Regions from separate parts of the Homo sapiens genome. Here region 2 is linked to region 1. Evidence: fine-mapped expression QTL. A gene starts in region 1. The other region holds a variant in brackets. All regions are shown on one strand. Distances are between the middles of the regions.

Evidence for each region. PIP is the estimated chance that this variant, and not a neighbour inherited with it, causes the effect. A credible set is the group of variants that fine-mapping cannot tell apart.
Region 2: its variant is the best candidate, but not a certain one, in a credible set for the expression of DUS4L-BCAP29 in prefrontal cortex (GTEx, PIP 0.54).

Annotation. Positions count from the first base shown.
Region 1 is chr7:107,558,980-107,567,756 of GRCh38, reverse strand. DUS4L-BCAP29 (DUS4L-BCAP29 readthrough) reads right to left here and starts at 3,786. Exons shown (of 13, transcript NR_163941.2): 1 at 3,548-3,786; 2 at 3,081-3,169; 3 at 571-707. It overlaps COG5 (component of oligomeric golgi complex 5), which reads left to right and starts at 3,837. Exons shown (of 22, transcript NM_006348.5): 1 at 3,837-3,954. The coding sequence starts at 3,861. It overlaps DUS4L (dihydrouridine synthase 4 like), which reads right to left and starts at 3,786. Exons shown (of 8, transcript NM_181581.3): 1 at 3,548-3,786; 2 at 3,081-3,169; 3 at 571-707. The coding sequence starts at 686. RefSeq lists enhancers at 2,060-3,259, 3,790-3,909 and silencers at 3,610-3,709, 3,748-3,958.
Region 2 is chr7:106,633,232-106,642,008 of GRCh38, reverse strand. No RefSeq gene overlaps it. Among named protein-coding and RNA genes, the nearest start is that of CCDC71L, 24 kb to the left of the region's middle. The variant G/A (reference allele first, on the strand shown) is at 3,723.

The DNA.
Region 1 (8,777 bases):
TTCTAAGATGAAAAGAGTTTTAGAGATCAGATGCACAACAATGTGAATGTAATTAACACTGCTGAACTGTATACTTAAAAATGATCGAGAGGTAAATTTTATGTTACGTATATTTTATAACAAACTTCTAAAAAAACTCAATAGTAAAAGAGCAAACAATCCAATTAGAAGATGAGCAAAAGATACGAAGAAATATTTCTTCGAAAACTGAACACACAACTACCTTAGGACCCATAATTGCACTCCTATTTGTCCCAAGACTTAAGTTCACATAAAAATCTATACATCAATACTTATATCTATTTAATATCCATTATATACTTATAGGTAGGAGTTACAACCACCACCATTTTTATAGATATAAAAAGTGCAGCTCAGAGAAGTTAATTGTTTACTCAGGATCACATATATACTAGGCAAGTAGTAGCATCATGACTCAATTCTAAGTCATGATTCCAAAGCTAAGAGTTTGAAGTTCCCATATGGTGGGTGGTCTTACAGTACTTTTAAAAAGTCAGAGCATAAAAGGGAAATTTCATCTTAGTTCATTAATCATTTTGCAACACTTACTTTGAATATCGAACCATTGGGGCACAGACTTTTACCAGCTGTCCAGAATGAAACATTTCTATGGGATCTTTTTTTCTTTCCTGACATATTGTCGTTTGCATGCAGTCACTCTTCATTAATACAGATATGTTTCAAATCTGAAAAAGACAATAAGCTTGTATAGAGAAAATATGTTTTCACTATATTAATTCCATTCTAACAATTTCAACTGCCAACAACATATATTTTTTATCAGGCTTGTGGGCTCAGAAATTTTTTTATTAATAGCTTATTTTCACAGTATCCAATATGATACTATAGAATGCTGCCTCTATTTGTAAGATAAATAGATGTGGAAAACTACCCAAGATAGTTGTGGAAACACAAGATGCAGAAAACGAGATTTTTTTTTTTTCCCTAGTTTACCATGTTGTAAGTTTTCATGTTATTTAAAAATTTTTTACATGTTACTTTGTTGGGATTGGTAAGCCAAGAAATTTGGTTTGAATTATTTTATATATGATACTCGACTGGCATTTGGAAATATCTTGTTTTATTCAGGAAAGTTAAATGGCATTAATAGAGCAACTCTTAAGTAGTCAGTGTTTCAAAAGATATGCTGGTGCTTTTATTGTAATTCTTGAATCCTGTTCTGTCTGTGAATCAGAAGATAAACAAACGTTAATTATTTTTAAAAATTTTAATGTGATATTATCTAGTGAAAATTTCAATTATAATTCTACAATTGCATTGTAAATCACTTTTATACCCCAAGAGGTACAGGTACGAGTGATGAAATTATGGAGTTTGTAAATGTTTTACATTTGCTATACTTAAAATCCTACTATTTCACAGTGTTGGCTACTTTTCATATTCCAGTCCTTGGCCTCAGTAACTTAGAAACAGGTATGTATGAAGGAAAAATGAAGCAGAAAATAACAACAACAAAAAAAAGAATCAGATATGGGCCAACTTTAGAATGGTCTAATTGCTCAAACTTTAGAGTCTTTAACCTTTAGGCAAGGAGTTGAAATTAAAAATAGCCAAGGTACTTAAGGATGTCAGGATCTTGCAAGAAACCGCTGGAAGCACCAATATTTAAGTAACAGAGGAAAAGGGGAGAGCAAAAGAGACTGAAGATGAACTTTGGAGCTGGGAGGAATAAACCTAAAGAGTGATACTCAGAAAACGAGAGAGACCATTATGAAGGAAGGAGGGGATAGGTATCTTAAACATCAAAGTAAGGCAAAAATAAAGCGCAATGGCAACAAGGTCATTAGTGATTTTAGCAAGAATTACTTCATTTTTATCCACTCCTGCAGTCATAGTAAATGGCATACAGAAGGCCTCAATATTTATTTGCTGAAAGAATAAATCAGTAGGTTTCAGGGGACTGGGCTCACACCTGTAAACTCAGCATTTTGGGAGGCCAAGGTGGGAGGCTTGCTTAAGGCCAGGAGTTTGAGACCAGCTTGGGCAATATAGTGAGACCCCCATCTCTAAAAAAATTATAAAAATCAGCTGGGCGTGGTAGCAAGCGACTGTGATCCCAACTACTCCAGAAGCTTGGGCAGGAGGATCCCTTGAGCCCAGGAGGTTGAGGCTGCAGTGAGCCACGATCCTGCCACTGCACTCCAGCCTGGGTAACAGAGCTAGACCCCAACTCAACAAAACAAAACAATCAGTAGCTTTCTACCTTAGTTGTACACTACAATGACCCGAGGAGCTTTTAAGAATTAGCATGCCCAAGCCATACCCTAGACCAATTAAATCCAAACGTCTGGGCTCAGGATGCAGGCATCAGTGTTTTTATTAAAGCTCTTCAGGTGATTTCAATGTGCAGCTAAGCTTGGAATTACTGGAATAAGTAAATCCAAAGATTCCAAAGCACCTGGTACAATTGTTTGTTTAAATGGGTTCCTACCTTACCTATTAACTCCTTTTAGAATATGGATTGAGTCTTATGTTTGTAAACTCATGAGAGCATGCAGAGTAGAGGGGTCAAAACTTTCGCTGTATGAATGAATATTACTCACTCTTCTAAAATCTTCCACTGGGGGGAATAAAGCCAAGGAAGGAAAAACAATTCCTAATTCACAAGTAATGAATGAATCACCCCTATTCCCATCATGACTAAGATCTTACATACTAGGGAAAATCCTCTGAGACAAAGAGAGCATAATGCAGTGTAGCATAAGACTTGCTTACCTGAGGTGTTATGAGTATGAAATGCATTGAGTTATAAAATACTTAGAACAGCGATAAGCACAGGATAAGTAATAGCACCTTTTTGAAACAGAATGTAGAAAACCACGTAGCTCTGGAACTGGATAAAATTGGTTTCCTGGATACATACCTACTGTACAAAATGAAAAAGTCATCTTCCAGCTTCTTTTTGCGAAGAAGCTTAAGACTGTCTTGCATACTTGTGGTTGCCTGACCCTGTTAATTTATCAGTATTTATCTTAGAAGAAAGAAATCTAGGTCAAAAACGCGAACGTATTAGTAAAGAAGATACAATGGGAACCAACCTGATGCTCTTACAGCGTCAATACTGTTAGTTGAGATGTGGACCATCTATCAGTTTGTAATTAAGAAAAAGTCTGGCACGTGACTGAAACTGAGGAAGAAGTAGAAAAGGCAAAAGGTCAAAGGTCTCATGGGAAGGAAGGAGGGTAGAGACAGTGAGTTTTATTGGTCCTTTTATGGTTCAGACTTCCTTCTTCATCGACTCTCCCTAATTCTCTTCACTGTTCATCCCCAGCAACTTTTCTTCCCAAGCATTTCCTGCGGGCTTTTATTACCCCAGGAGTGCCAATCAAGGCGTGGAACAGATAAAGCTGTGTAGCAACTAACGCGTGACTCTTGTGAGTGTGGAGGGCAAACGAAGCTCCCTGAAACCTCCGCTCTGCTCTCCTGCCTTACGCCGCGCGGCCCCTGTTCTGAGGTTTAATACTTGCTTCACAGATAAGCGCTGCGGCCACGTTCCGGTGCCCACCTTCTCCTTGGCTAGGGCACGACGCCAGCCCAGGGGGCGCGGCCCTGAGCTGCTGCGAGAGACAGCTGAAAGCGCCGGCCCGACGGCCTTGGCTCCCTCGGTGCGCTGGGCGCAGAGCACTCGGACCCTGGGCGCCCACTGCTCGAGTACCTGCGCGGCTCCTAGCCAGGCTTAGCCCAGGCGCGGGCTGAGAGTCAGTTCGCCAGGTGGGCCTGGAGCCATGGGCTGGGTGGGCGGGCGGCGCCGGGATTCTGCGTCACCACCTGGGCGGAGCCGTTCTGCTGCTGACGACATCAACCCGGCACCTGCCAACATGGAAGGTGGCGGCGGCAGCGTCGCTGTAGCTGGCCTCGGAGCTCGAGGCTCTGGAGCGGCTGCAGCTACAGTCCGGGAACTTCTGCAGGACGGTAAGGAGACGGGGTCTGACCAGGTCGTGGGGTTGGGGGTCTGCGCTGCTCCGCACCTGGACAGCGAGGTGGACCCAACCCGTTGCTTTGCAGAAAGTTTTCCAGTCTGGACGTGACCACTCCCCTCCGCCCGGCCCCCTGGCTTGGGTACTGTTCTAGCCAACCTATTTACTCTGGGACTGGCTCCCTCTTTTCTGGAGTCTTGGGGACACTTGGTTTCTGTGTGTTCCTCATTTCAACTCGACCCCCCCCCCCCCCATGCCTCCAGCTTCCCTGAAGTTTCGGGAGCCCAAACCCTGTGGACCGCGTTGGCAGCCACCGGCTGCTGCCGCAGTTCTTGACGAAGGGGTGTAGCGTTCGAGCTCTTCAAAAGTGTAAGCTCTAGAACAGACGGCAGACGCATAATGAAATAGGGCCTTGTTTTAAAGTAGAGCTGGAAACGCTTACTCCTTTAACAAATGGACTGTACAGGTGACCCCTCTTACAGGCTGGTTTTTTTTTTCCTCCTTTATGAGGCAGTTATCTACAGTGACACGTGGGGGAGGGTTTGAGACATTTGTTCAGGTTGGGATTAACCATTTGTACAGAATCTAGCAGTCAGATTTTATTGCTAGTCAGTTTGGAGAGAAGTTGCCCAAAATAAGAAAAGTTAGATATAATATACTTGAAAAGCATATTCAGTTGTGTCAATCCAGTTACCATGTCCCGAATCTCTTATCCTTCAGAATAAAGTTCACATTTATAAGCATAAAAATAAAGCCCTTCTCACCTGTTCTTAATTTTTTCTCTAGTGGCCATCGCATTCTACCTTGTACTAAAATCATTTGTATACTTGTTTTAATCTCTTCTGTATTGCAAACTTTTTTTAATATCCCACAGTGTGAATAGCAGTATCTTGCATACAGTAGGTGCAGAATGTTTTTTAAATTCATCATCGCAGTTAGAAGCACATGCACACATTTGAAGACCGAAGTGGGTAATAAATGAAATAAAGTTCCAAATTATTGTTTATTTTCTCTGACTGTTAAATATTTTATTGTCATCCTGAATTACGTGCCTTTTCATGATAATTTATGTACTTTTGTCAAAAGCAATGATGTTTTCTGAACTATTTCATGTTGGAAACTCTAGGACCGGGTCTCTGTCTAAAACTTGGCTAAACTGAATTTAAACTTTAGATACAAGGCAGAGACCCTGATATATTTGCAGTTGCTCCTGATACACGTGCAATTTTTGCCCTCAAGTAGTTCACCATCTAGTAGAGGAAATAATCTTGTAGACTATAAAGGTAGGTGCTGTAATATAGTGATGTAAGATAGCAGTAGGATTGCATATAAAGTAGAGCATTAATACAGAGGAGAATGATAACTGGGGGTTGGAAACTGGTTAGGAAATGTCAGAAAAGGCTTTCTAGGTGGAGACGTTTTAAACTGTAGACAGGACTTCCCCAGGTGAACAGTGGAACATTGGATATATGTTTCAGTAGGATGTATTTCAGGAATTGTAATCAGTTCTTGGACGGTAAATACTCTTCAGTTCTGCCTTCTGTATTTTCCTCCTTGGTTCTCTGCCATTCTCCACAGTGATTGTTTAAATCTTCTTTACCCTTTTCAAACCTTTCGCTTCAAGCTCAACAAATGACTTTAAGCTTCCCTGGGGAGAAAAAGAGGATCCATCAGATGTGAACTTTCTCCATTTCTTGCCCATCAAACCTATGAATTTAACCTCAACGTATAACCATCTGTTGCACCTTTTTTCCCTTGCCTTTTCAATTGCAACGGAAGTGGAGCCTCTGCTCCTTTCTTTCTTTCTTTCTTTTTTTTTTTTGAGACGGAGTCTCGCGCTGTTGCCCAGGCTGGAGTGCAGTGGCGCAGTCTCGGCTCACTGCAAGCTCTGCCTCCGGGGTTCACGCCATTCTCCTGGCTCAGCCTCCTGAGAAGCTGGGACTACAAGCGCCCATCACTATGCCTAGCTAATTTTTTGTATTTTTAGTAGAGACGGGGTTTCACCGTGTTAGCCAGGATGGTCTCGATCTCCTGACCTCGTGATCTGCCTGCCTTGGCCTCCCAGAGTGCTGGGATTACAGGCGTGAGCCACCACGCCCGGCCGAGTCTCTGCTCCGTTCTAAGGATAGTGCCTCCTACTTTGCTCTGGATTTTTTCTTCCTGTTTCCTGGGGACTCAGTCACCCTCAATCTATGCCATTGAAGTAACTTTGCAAGGTTTTCAATGACTTTCTTGCACATACGACAAATGGACACTTTTTTGGTCCTTTAACTTGTAATAACATTTGATTCCTTTCTTGAAATACTTTCCTCATGCGGTTTATGGGTGCCGTGCTTTTTAAAAATTCTTAATTCTCTAGGTGCTCTTTTCCAGGTTCCTGTAGATACTTGTCAGTTCAGTTTGTTCTGAATTAAGCGGTCTCTGTTGCCCCTCCACCCCCAACATTCCTGAGGAATTAAGCATTTCCAGCAGAAACTTTGATTCACTATATCGGGGATTTGGCCAATGACAGAGTATCGGATTGATAGGCTTGGTGAGCACAGATGCATAGTATGAAAATTGGTGAGGTGTTTCTGATATGCCCTCTATGGGAATGAGGAAACTATAAAAGAGAAGCATTATATAATTCATCTCTTTAAAGGCTGTCAGCCCTCAAATGCCACATCCCGTTGTGTTTGATCTTTGTAAGCTCTATGACAATACTAATACTTACTTTCTTTATCCCTTCTTTTGGCTTTTGCCATTCTTTTTTGTTTCTCTTTCTCCCTGAGCACTCTTTAGTCTCTTTGATTGCTTTCATTTTCTCTGTCCACCCCCCACTTTCCTATCTTCCTCATTTTCCTGCCTTTTTGTGCATTCTAAAACTTTTTTTTCCTAAATCATCTGGTCTTGTCTGTGGTTTCAGTATGCTCCTTACCTGTCTTCTGAATTATAAAACTATATTTTTAACTGCCTACTGGACATTTCTATCTTAATTTTTTTATGATATGCCATTCCATAACCTGTATGGACATTTCTATTTTGATAGTAAACAAGCAGTGCTAGTTCTATAATACACATGAAAACCTACATATGAACAAATAGTACAAGGTTTACATATGAAAAAATGAAATGAATTCACTTTTTCTGTTCTTCTCTCCTAATCTTTTCCTCTGGTAGTTTCTGTTATCTGTGTTTACTATGTTGTTAGGTAAATGTGTGCTTGTTCCCCTTGTAAATTATGAATTCCTTGGAGGCAGAAGTTTATGTTCATCTTGGTATATTCAGTGTCTAGTGGTCTAAGTTAGTGTAAAACTAAATTTCCTGTATCAGTTGCTTAATCCAGAAATTTGGGAATCCTTGTTTGTTCTACCTAATCACCCATTTTCAGCTTGTCACTAAGTCCTACATCCTGTGCAGTGTGAATATTTGTCAAATTTGTCACTTTGACATTCTTAGTGCCACTTATTCAGGTCTTAGTCGGGCCTTCATTATGTCTTAGGCTGTTAACATAGTACTTTACTGGCCTCTGTGGTTCTATTTCTTGGGTGTATTGGTTAATTGGCTTTGTGGGAAAATAGAAAAAGCCCTGATTTTTGTAGTGTTTGCTGATTACCATGGTGTAAATACTCTCACCATCGTAGATTTTAAGATATCTGTGTGAAAGGTCAACTGGCTCACAGAATTCCTGAAAATGTAACAGTCTGTGCTCAAGAGCCAATAAGAGGCAACTTCAGCACATTGCTGTGTGACTAATCCTTTTTCCATCATCCTCTATACAGCTGCCAGGATTATTGTTCTGTAACATAAAGCTGATAGTGCAATTTCTTGGGTTAAATGAGATATGGTTAAACATTTCAAATGTCTTACAAACCTCTTTTCAAACTGCGCTCCAACCTTTGGAACCACATCTGTCATTCTTTACCATTTCTGTCCAATATACATGTGCTATGATTTAGACACACTGAAATCAGTATTCCCCTTGTTTCTCAAAATATGCCATGGCATTTGCCACTGCTAAACCTTCCCTTTGCTTGGAATGGCTTTTTTCATTTGTCTGGCTGACAGGACTCTTAATTCTGAGAAGCACTTGGCAAATCAGAAGGAAATGTGGTTCTCAGACTTAAAAGCAGCCAAAGTAGCAGTTTCCTTCTTTCATTCCACTACATTTTAAGAATAATCAAGAGTATGAGCCTTTACTTTTTGTTGTTGGTTGTTACCAGAATGATACTAATGATACATCAGCTGATGTATAGATTAGTTAATTCATGGAACCTGCCATGTGTCTGGTATTGTTCAGACACTGGAGAAGAGTTAGCAAACAAAACAAAGACCTTCTTCCCCTCTTGGAGCATACATTATAGCAGATGTAGACAATTTAGGTTTTCTTAAAAGTACTCTATTTTGTTTGTTTCATAATCTCTCTCAAGGCAGCTTTACTTGTATCTACTGTATCATTAGGAGATTTGGTACATGGTTACCATGAGCTCCCTTCTGGGTATCTATTTTTAGCTTTCAATTCTCTTAATTTTTCTTTCATCCACATATTTGTGGATTTCTATATTGAGGGGTATCTTTTTAACATCTGGTATTACTTCTGTTTTCTGTCTATTAGGGGCCTATTTTAAACAGCTTTTCTTTCCATTAACATATTTCACCCATAAATCCTAAATTTCAGTAACACCTATAAATTTATATTTCCTATTGTTACTAAAATTCCAGATTCACTTTGCTATAACAGTATTTGTGTATTGATCTAGAGATATCTGAGGCCATAAATATTACATATGTGTATATATATATATAGAGTCAATTTTCCTGTTGTCTTTTCACTGACAA
Region 2 (8,777 bases), 930 kb after region 1:
AGGTGACAGGCATGAGCCACCATGTCTGGCTGAGCTTTAATACATGCGCAGAGCCATATAACCACCACCCCATCAAAATATAGAGCAGTTCAATGGACCCCCCAAATTCCCTCATGCTGTCCCATTGTAGTCAACTCCTCCTCCACCCTAACCCTGACAACCCCTGATCTCCATCTCCATAGCTTTGCACTTCCACAATATCATATAAATAGAACTTTATTTTATTTAATTTTTTAGACTGTTTTCTTTCATTCCGCGTAATGCCTTTGAGATACATTCATATTATTCATATATCAATAGTTCCTTTTTTTTCCTGAGCGAACTTTCATTGTATGGATATTCCAGAGTTTGTTTAACCATTCACTTGTTGAATGACATTTGTGTTATTTCCAGTTTTGGTCAATTATGAATAGAACTGCTATAAGCATCTCTGTATGGGTTTTTGTGTGAATATGTTTTCACCTCTCTAGAGTAAATACCCTGGAGTGAGGTCATATGATAAACATATGTTTGACTTTATTAGAAACTGCCAAACTGTTTTCCAAGGTAGGTGTACCATCCCACCAGCAGTGCATCCCACCAGCAGTGCATGACAGTTGCAGTTGCCCAACATCCTTGCCAGTATTTGGTATTGTCTTCCAAAATATATATATATATATTAGCCATTCTTTTACATATGTAAAGGCACCTTATTTCCCTAAATGTTAATACTGCAGAGCTTCTTTTCATGTACTTGTATATATAATATTCTGGATAAAAGATCTTTGCTGGATATGTGATTTGCAAATATTTTCTCCCAGTCTGTAGCTTGTCTTTTTGTTCTCATACAGGTGTCCTTCATAAAAGTTTTAATTTGACAAAATCCAATTTATCAATCTTTCTCTTTTAAATAAATACAATTCATAATGCTTATAACTTCAGACATAAAATTTGTGCTCTTTGTCATGTGCATTTTTGTTATATATTAATGACAGAATCTTTTGGGGTTTTCTGCTTATGGTTGCACAAGTTGTGCACTGCACATCTCTAGCAGGCATGATTTATGTGGAATACTATGTAAATGGCAACCCCTAGAGCTGTCAAATGTACAGTTTGTGCAGCATATATTATCTCCCTGGTATCTTCTTTACTGGAAGGATTGCTGTCATTGTTGTGATTCGGTTTTACTCCCTGTGCTATTCATTTGTTATTAGGTGGAGTCTATATTGAAGCTATATTTAAGAAGCTCCTATATATGAACCGTTTAAAGCATAACCTGTTGCCAGTGACTCTTCAGCTTGCTAATGGCTTATCTTTGAGGTTCCAGAAACATCATGCTTTCAGGCTGGTTTCCTTAGCTGACTCTTTCCATCAATTCCCATTTGTGGAAATTGGAAACTCCCTGCACTCAGCCAGTTTTAGCTGTCTAGACAACCAGGTTTTGAAACTGACATCTAAACAAATGACTAACAGTGAAGATTTTTGGCATCACCCATTATTTATGCAACGCTGGATTTTACCCTGTAGAACCAAAAAAATCAACAGAGCATAAGGACAGACATGCTATTTGCAGGTAATCTTTTAGCTGTGTGTAATGTTACCTGAAAGGGGTCTGAATCCAGATCCCAAGAGAGGGTTCTTGGGTCTTGTACAAGAAAGAATTTGAAGCTAATCCATAAAGTGAAAGGAAGTTTACTAAGAAAGTGAAGAAATAAAAGAATGTCTTATTCACAGGCAGACCAGAGGCATGGGCTGCTCGGCTGCTTATAATTATTATTAGTTCTTGATTATATGCTAAATAAGGGGTGGATTATTCATGAGTTTTCTGGCAAAGGGGTGGGCAATTCCCAGAACTGAGGGTTCCTCCCCTTTTTAGACCATATAGGGTAACTTTCTGACATTGACATGGCATTTGTAAACTGTCAATGGCACTGGTGGGAGTGTCTTTTAGCATGCTAATGCATTATATAATTATCGTATAATGAGCAGTGAAGACCAGAGGTAACTTTTGTCACCATCTTGGTTTTGCTGGGATTTGGCCAGCTTCTTTACTTTATCAGCAAGGTCTTTGTGACCTGTATCTTGTGCCAACCTCCTATCTTATCCTGTGACTAAGAATGCCTTAACTACCTGGGAATGTAGCCCATTAGGTCTCAGCCTTATTTTACCCAGTCACTATTCAAGATGGAGTCACTCTAGTTTGAATGCCTCTGACAGTAATGAAGAAGTAAACTCCGAGACAGCACATGACTTCCCTCTGATGACGTAAGGTACCCTTCAGTGTCTGAGAGTTTTTTACTCTAAATATCTGACTAGCTGCGTTTTCTTCAACCTAGTTAAAGATAGAATCACAAGCTGTTGACTAGTCAACCGTTAGTGTCAGAGTTGAACTAGAAAAGCTTCAACAGATCAGAATTGTTCTTGGTGTCCTGATATGTTATCATCTCTGTCGATTAATATAGGCTCTAACTTGCTGTGCTATGGGAAGAAGAAACATGTATCCTATTTGTGAGTAGTTTTTATTCAAAATCAAGCTGATCATGTTTTTATGTAGGGAAGTCATAGAATCTGTATCTTGGGAATGAATATAACTTAAATGGGGAAGTTGTTAAGAAGGGTACCTTGGAAGGTGTGGACTTTGAAAGTTGAAAGTTTGGAAGGGGTGAGTGTGTTACACTACAAGTAGGTAAAAAGATTGTTCAAAGTTGGATCCCTGCTTAGAAAGCCCAAATAAATGGTTTGATGGGTGAGGGAAGAGAATGATATATTTGAGGGCTATTGATCCCATTCTAAGAAGTGACAATATAGAAAGAGGAAGAACCAACATGTGGTTTTTTTGTTTTGGTTTGTAAACCTCTAAAGAGATTACAAGGAAAGTGATCTTTCTGGATGTCTTTCACCTATCTGGCTTCTTTATATCAGGCGATAGGATAATTTCAGAAAGTGTTTCATTTCTCACCATTAACTATAACTTTTATTGGTGTGTCTTACATGCGCTTTATCAAGTTGAGGAAGATCCCCCTATTCTTAGTTTGCTGAGAGTTTTGTTTTTGTTCTCTTTTTAAATCATGCAAATGTATTGGATTTTGCCAAATGCTTTTCTGCATCTGTGGATATGACCATATGATTTTCCTTCTTTATCCTCTTGTGATAGATTACATTAACTTGTTCTGAAATGTTAAAGTAGCCTTGCTGTGATGTTAATACTGAGTGTCAACTTAATTGGATTGAAGGATGCAAAGTATTGATCCTAGGTGTGTCTGTGAGGATGTTGCCAAAGGAGATGAACATTTGAGTCAGTGGGCTGGGAAAGGCAAACCCACCCTTAATCTGGGTGGGTACCATCTAATCAGCTGCCAGCATGACTAGAATATAAAGCAGTCAGAAAAATTTGAAAAGACTAGACTGGCCCAGCCTCCCAGCCTATGTCTTTCTCCCATGCTGGATGCTTCCTGCTCTTGAACTTTGGACTCCAAGTTCTTCAGTTATGGGACTCAGGTTGACTTTCCTTGCTCCTCAGCTTGCAGATGGCCTATTGTAGGACCTTGTGATCATGTGAGTTAATACTTAATAAACTCCGCTTTATATATATCCCATTAGTTCTCTACCTCTAGAGAATCCTGACTAATACACTTGCATACCTGGAAAAAGTCTCACTTGATCATGTTGTATAATTCTTTTTATACATAGTTAGATTTAATTTACTAATATTTTATTGAGAAATTTTACATCTATGCTTAAGC[G/A]AGATATTGGTCTGTAGTTTCTCTTGCTTATAATGTCTTTATTTGCTTTTGTTATTAGGGTAATGTTGGCTTTACAAAATGAGTTGGAAGTGTTCCCTCTGCTTTTGTTTTCAGGAAGAGATTGTAGAGAACTAGTATCATTTTTACTTAAATGTTTGATAAATTCAACCAGTGAAACCATCTGGGCCTGGTGCTTTTTTTAAGATTATTAATTCTTGATTAAATTTATTTGATAAGATAGGACTATCCAACTTATCTGCTTCTCTTTGTGTGAATTTTAGTAGTTTATGTGTTTTAAAGATTTGGTCCATTTCATTTAAGTTAGCATAGAATTAGCCAACATTACCCTAATAACAAAACCAAATAAAGACATTATAAGCAAGAGAAACTACAGACCAATATCTCTCTTAAATTTGTGGGCATAGAACTGTTCATAGCATTCTTTTATTATTATCCTTTTAATGTTGATGGGATTAGTAGTGGTTATTTTTATTTCATTTGTGATACTAGCAATTTATGCCTTTTTTTCTTGGTTAGCCTGGCTAGAAGTTTATCAGTTTGATTGATGTTTTCAAAGAACCATCTTTTGGTTTTATGGATTTTCTCTATCAATTTTCTCCTTTTGATGTCATAGATGACTTCCAAGTTCTTAACATGTTGGAGCTCAAACCAATGTCCCTGTTACATTTTGTTTCTTTATTACTCACTTTTAAGATTTACATATGGTAAACTTCACTCTTTTGGTGTAAAGTTTTGTGAGTTTTGACAAATGCATAGAATCTTGTAGCCATCATCACTAACAAGACATAGGCCGTTCTGCTACCCCCACACCACAAAATTCCCTTGTGCTACTTCTTTGTAGTTAATTTCTCTCCCTACCTGCAACCCTGACAACTACTAGTCTGTCTTTGAACTTTGGTTCTTAAGTCATTTGTGGGATTGAGAAGCCTCTGGGACTGTTATGCAATGTATATTTTTAGGGCATGAATAGATCAAAAAAGTCTTTTCCTTTGTATGGATCCCAAATGATGTAACACATTATGGCTCTCATCTTTGTGCTTTTTGTTCCTTAAAAAAAGTAAACAATTAGAAAACAAACTAAGAATAAATTTGGCAAAAGTAAATAAAAGTAGATGAAATGGTTAAAAAAAAGTTAAGTTGTAAGGCAAACTGCATATCCCTTTCTTTGAAATATTCAAGCAGACAGAAGTGGACAGGTGCCCTGCATAAAGGAAGTAACTAGGATGATTGCTGTCTCAAGGGCATCTTAGGCTCACAGAGCTGGATGAACTTTGGAAATGACCTAATGATCTATGTAGTAGTCAGCAAACTATAGCCCACCAGCCACAACTGGTAGACCACCTGTTTTTATATGGCCATGGAATAAATATGGTTTTTATATTTATAAAAGATTGGGGAAAATATAAATCAGGGTATTTCATGACACATGAAAGTTATTATGAGATTCAAATTTCACTGTCCACAAATAAAATTTACTGGAACCCAGTCATGCTCATTTGTTTCCCTATTGTCTATGTCCTTTCACACTGTAATGGCAAAGTTGAGTAGCTGTGGCAGAGACTGTATATGGTGATCCTCACTTTGCACTACTGCTTGGAATGCTGTAAATTGCAGTGAAAGTTAAAATTCAACTGCATTTCTAGCATCATACAGTGACATTCCTCCCTCCCTCCTTCCCTTTTCTTTCTTTTTTTTCCTTCCTTCCTTCCTTTCTTTTCTTTTTCTTTTCTTTCTTTTCTTTTCTTTCTTTCTCTTTTCTTTCTTTCTTCCTTTCTTTCTTTCTCTCTCTCTCTCTCTCTCTCTCCCCCTCCCTCCCTCCCTCTCTCTCTCTTTCTTTCTTTCTTTCTTTCTTTCTTTCTTTCTTTCTTTCTTTCGTTTTTTGTTTGACAGAGTCTTGCTCTGTCACCCAGGCTGGAGTGCAGTGGCATGATCTCAGCTCACTGCAACCTTCACCTTCTGGGTTCAAGCAATTCTCTTGCCTCAGCCCCCCAAGTAGCTGGGCTTACAGGTTCATGCCACCACACCCAGCTAATTTTTGTACTTTTAGTAGAGATGGGGTTTCACCATGTTGGCCAGGCTGGTCTTGAAGAATTCCTGACCTCAGGTGATCCGCCCGACTCAGCTTCCCAAAGCGTTGCGATTACAGGCATGAGCCACCGCGACTGGCCTCTTTTCTTTCTTTGTTTTTGTTTCTACCCCCTGCCCCCTCCCCGCCTCCCTCTCTCCCTTCCTTCCTTCCTCTTTTCCCTCTCTTAAATTTATTTCTTATTATTAACAGTAAATACCCATCAAGTGATAACAAGAAAGAAAAAGTAGACTTTGAATATCAAGCTTTTAAGATACAGTGGAGTGTGTATTACTTTGCTATATAATAGAATTACTTGGCAAGACATTTTGCTTACTATGCAATGACAATATAGTTATGCTAAAAGAATACAATAGATGTCAACATAACCAGACTGAACAATCATTGTGACATTCTCATCTCACAGGAAAGCAATGATTAGAAAAATTTAAACTTGAATTTCTCATCAAAGCAGAATTTCTTCACAAAAACAAAAAATGAGAATGAGCTTGCAACCAAAGAAGTTTCTGAGTGGCTTGTTAGCCAAGCAAGGAAAGCGGTTTACCCATGGTGAGTTAACTAAATTGAGATCAATTACAACAGCCAAAGAAATGTGTCCAGAGAAAATAAACTTGTTTAAGACCTTTAGCCTTCCAGTAAGAACAATTGCTCAGAGAGTTGAGGACATTGGAAGCAACATCAATAGTCAATTTAAAAAAAAAAGACAAATAATTTAGGGTGGTTTTTCTTGGTTCCCGATGAGCCCACAATGTTACTGATACTGCTCAGTTGTTACTGATTCAAGGAATCAATGCCAATTTGGAAGTGACTGAAGAATTAGCTTCTATAAATAGTCTGCATGGAGCAACTAGAGGTGAGAATATTTTCAAAGAATTTGAGAAAACACCAATTTAGTACAACCTGTGGTAGAATCTGCTAAGAAATACCAAATCTGATGACAGTAAAAATATGTGTGAAATTGTAAGAGATTTTCAAAGAATTTGAGAAAATACTAATCCAGTACAATCTGAGACGGAATCTACTACGATATGTCACACTTAATGGTAGTAAAAATATGTATGAAGCTGCAAAATGCTTAGTTGGATAAATTTACAAAGGTTGGGAAAATGTAAGGCATTTAAAATCTACAGTTATTTATTGTGTTACTTATTAGTGGGTTCTTTGCTGAAAATGTTTTTATCTGGTATGTGTCATTGATCCAAGTTTCAGTGGTAGACTCATTCACTCTCATGGACATAACCATAATCAGTTCCATGAATTTTTGTTAGAAAGAGAAGCTGAATATCCTGACTTGCTGTACCACACAGCAATTCAGTGGTTCAGCAGTGGTAACGTTTTATTGTAATTTTTTGGAGCTCAGGGCTGAAGTTGAAATTGTTTAAAATGAGAACGGTCCTCAGCCACTACTAAGCAATACTGAATGGCTTTAGAAATTAGTTTTTGCTGTAGACTTCATAGTATTTCTTAATGAATTTCACCTAAAATTACAAGGCCAAGCAGTGCTCATATAAGAAATTTATACTGCAGTAAAGTCATTTCAACAACTAACATTACTTGAATGTCAACCTGCCCTATACACATCCAGTGTTACTAAAAGATAAAACAAGAATTGAGATCTCCATGCAATTTTCCTTGCAAATTTGCAGTGGTTATATTTTCTGAGTTCTAACTGCAGTCTCAGTAACATCTTTTGGACTCAATGCAAGGGCAAAACAAATTTCCATATTTCAAAATCCATTTAACCGAACATTTGAAGGGCTTCCATTGAGCCTTCAACTGGAAGCTATTAATTTGCAATGTAATCATATGCTAAAAATGTCAAGGGAAACATTTAATAGAACCCTACAAATGCCTTTCAAGTGATCAATATGCTCAATTAAAATCATATGCTCACGAATCAATATTAGTATTTGGCAGTTCTTATCGCGTAAAAAGATATTTTCAAAGATGAAATACTCATTCACTTGTGGAATTGCAATACTCAATGAGATACAATCTCAGCATAGATCAGCATTAACAAATGAACATTAGCAATCAACATTGATAATGGGCCAATCACATTTGAATCCCAATGCAGTGAAATGTTATTACCCTCAAAAGAATTCCAGTCATTATTAGACCTGTACTACAAAAAAATTATACACAATTATTTTTATATTTTAAATTTTGTCAGTAAAAAATGCATGAAAATGTGTTTTCTTTCTTGTTTTATAAGTAGTTATATAAGACTTTTGCCTCTTGGTCTGCAAAGCCTAAAATATCTACTATCTGTCTCTTTACAGACACTTTTCCAATCTCTGATCTAGAACACTTGATTTCCTCTATGCTAGAAGACAGTCTGAGGTTTCAACTGGAAAAGCCCCAGGGACAGGGTTGATAATTTTTAAAGATCTTTGTATATTACAAATGGAACAAAGAAAGCTGTTACGGGTTGTCAGCTGATGTCAGTCAAACTGTCATGAAAAAACTGGACTATGAACAAAAGTGGGTGCCTCTATTCCAACACAACTGTATTAGTTTTCTAGGGCTGCCATAACAAAGTACCACACACTGGGGGCTTAAGAGAAACAAAAATGTGTTCTCCCACAGTGCCAGAAGCTAGAAGTCCAAAATCAAGGTGTCAGTAGGACCATACTTCCTCTGAGGCGTCTAGAAAATAACCCTTCCTTGCCTTTTTCTAGCTTCTGTTAGTTGCTGGCAATCCCTCAGTATTCCTGGGCTTGTAGCTGCATCACTTCAATCTACGTCCACTGTCTCACAGCCTTCTTTCCTGTGTGTCTGTCTGTGTGTACATCTCCCCTTCTGATAAGGACATCAGTCACACTGGATTTAGGGTCTACCTAAATCCATTATGACCTTATCTTTATCTAATATACCCGCAAAAAACTATGTTAAAATTTATTTGAAAAATGAATTATGACAGCTACAAGTTTCTTTTGACAAAATTT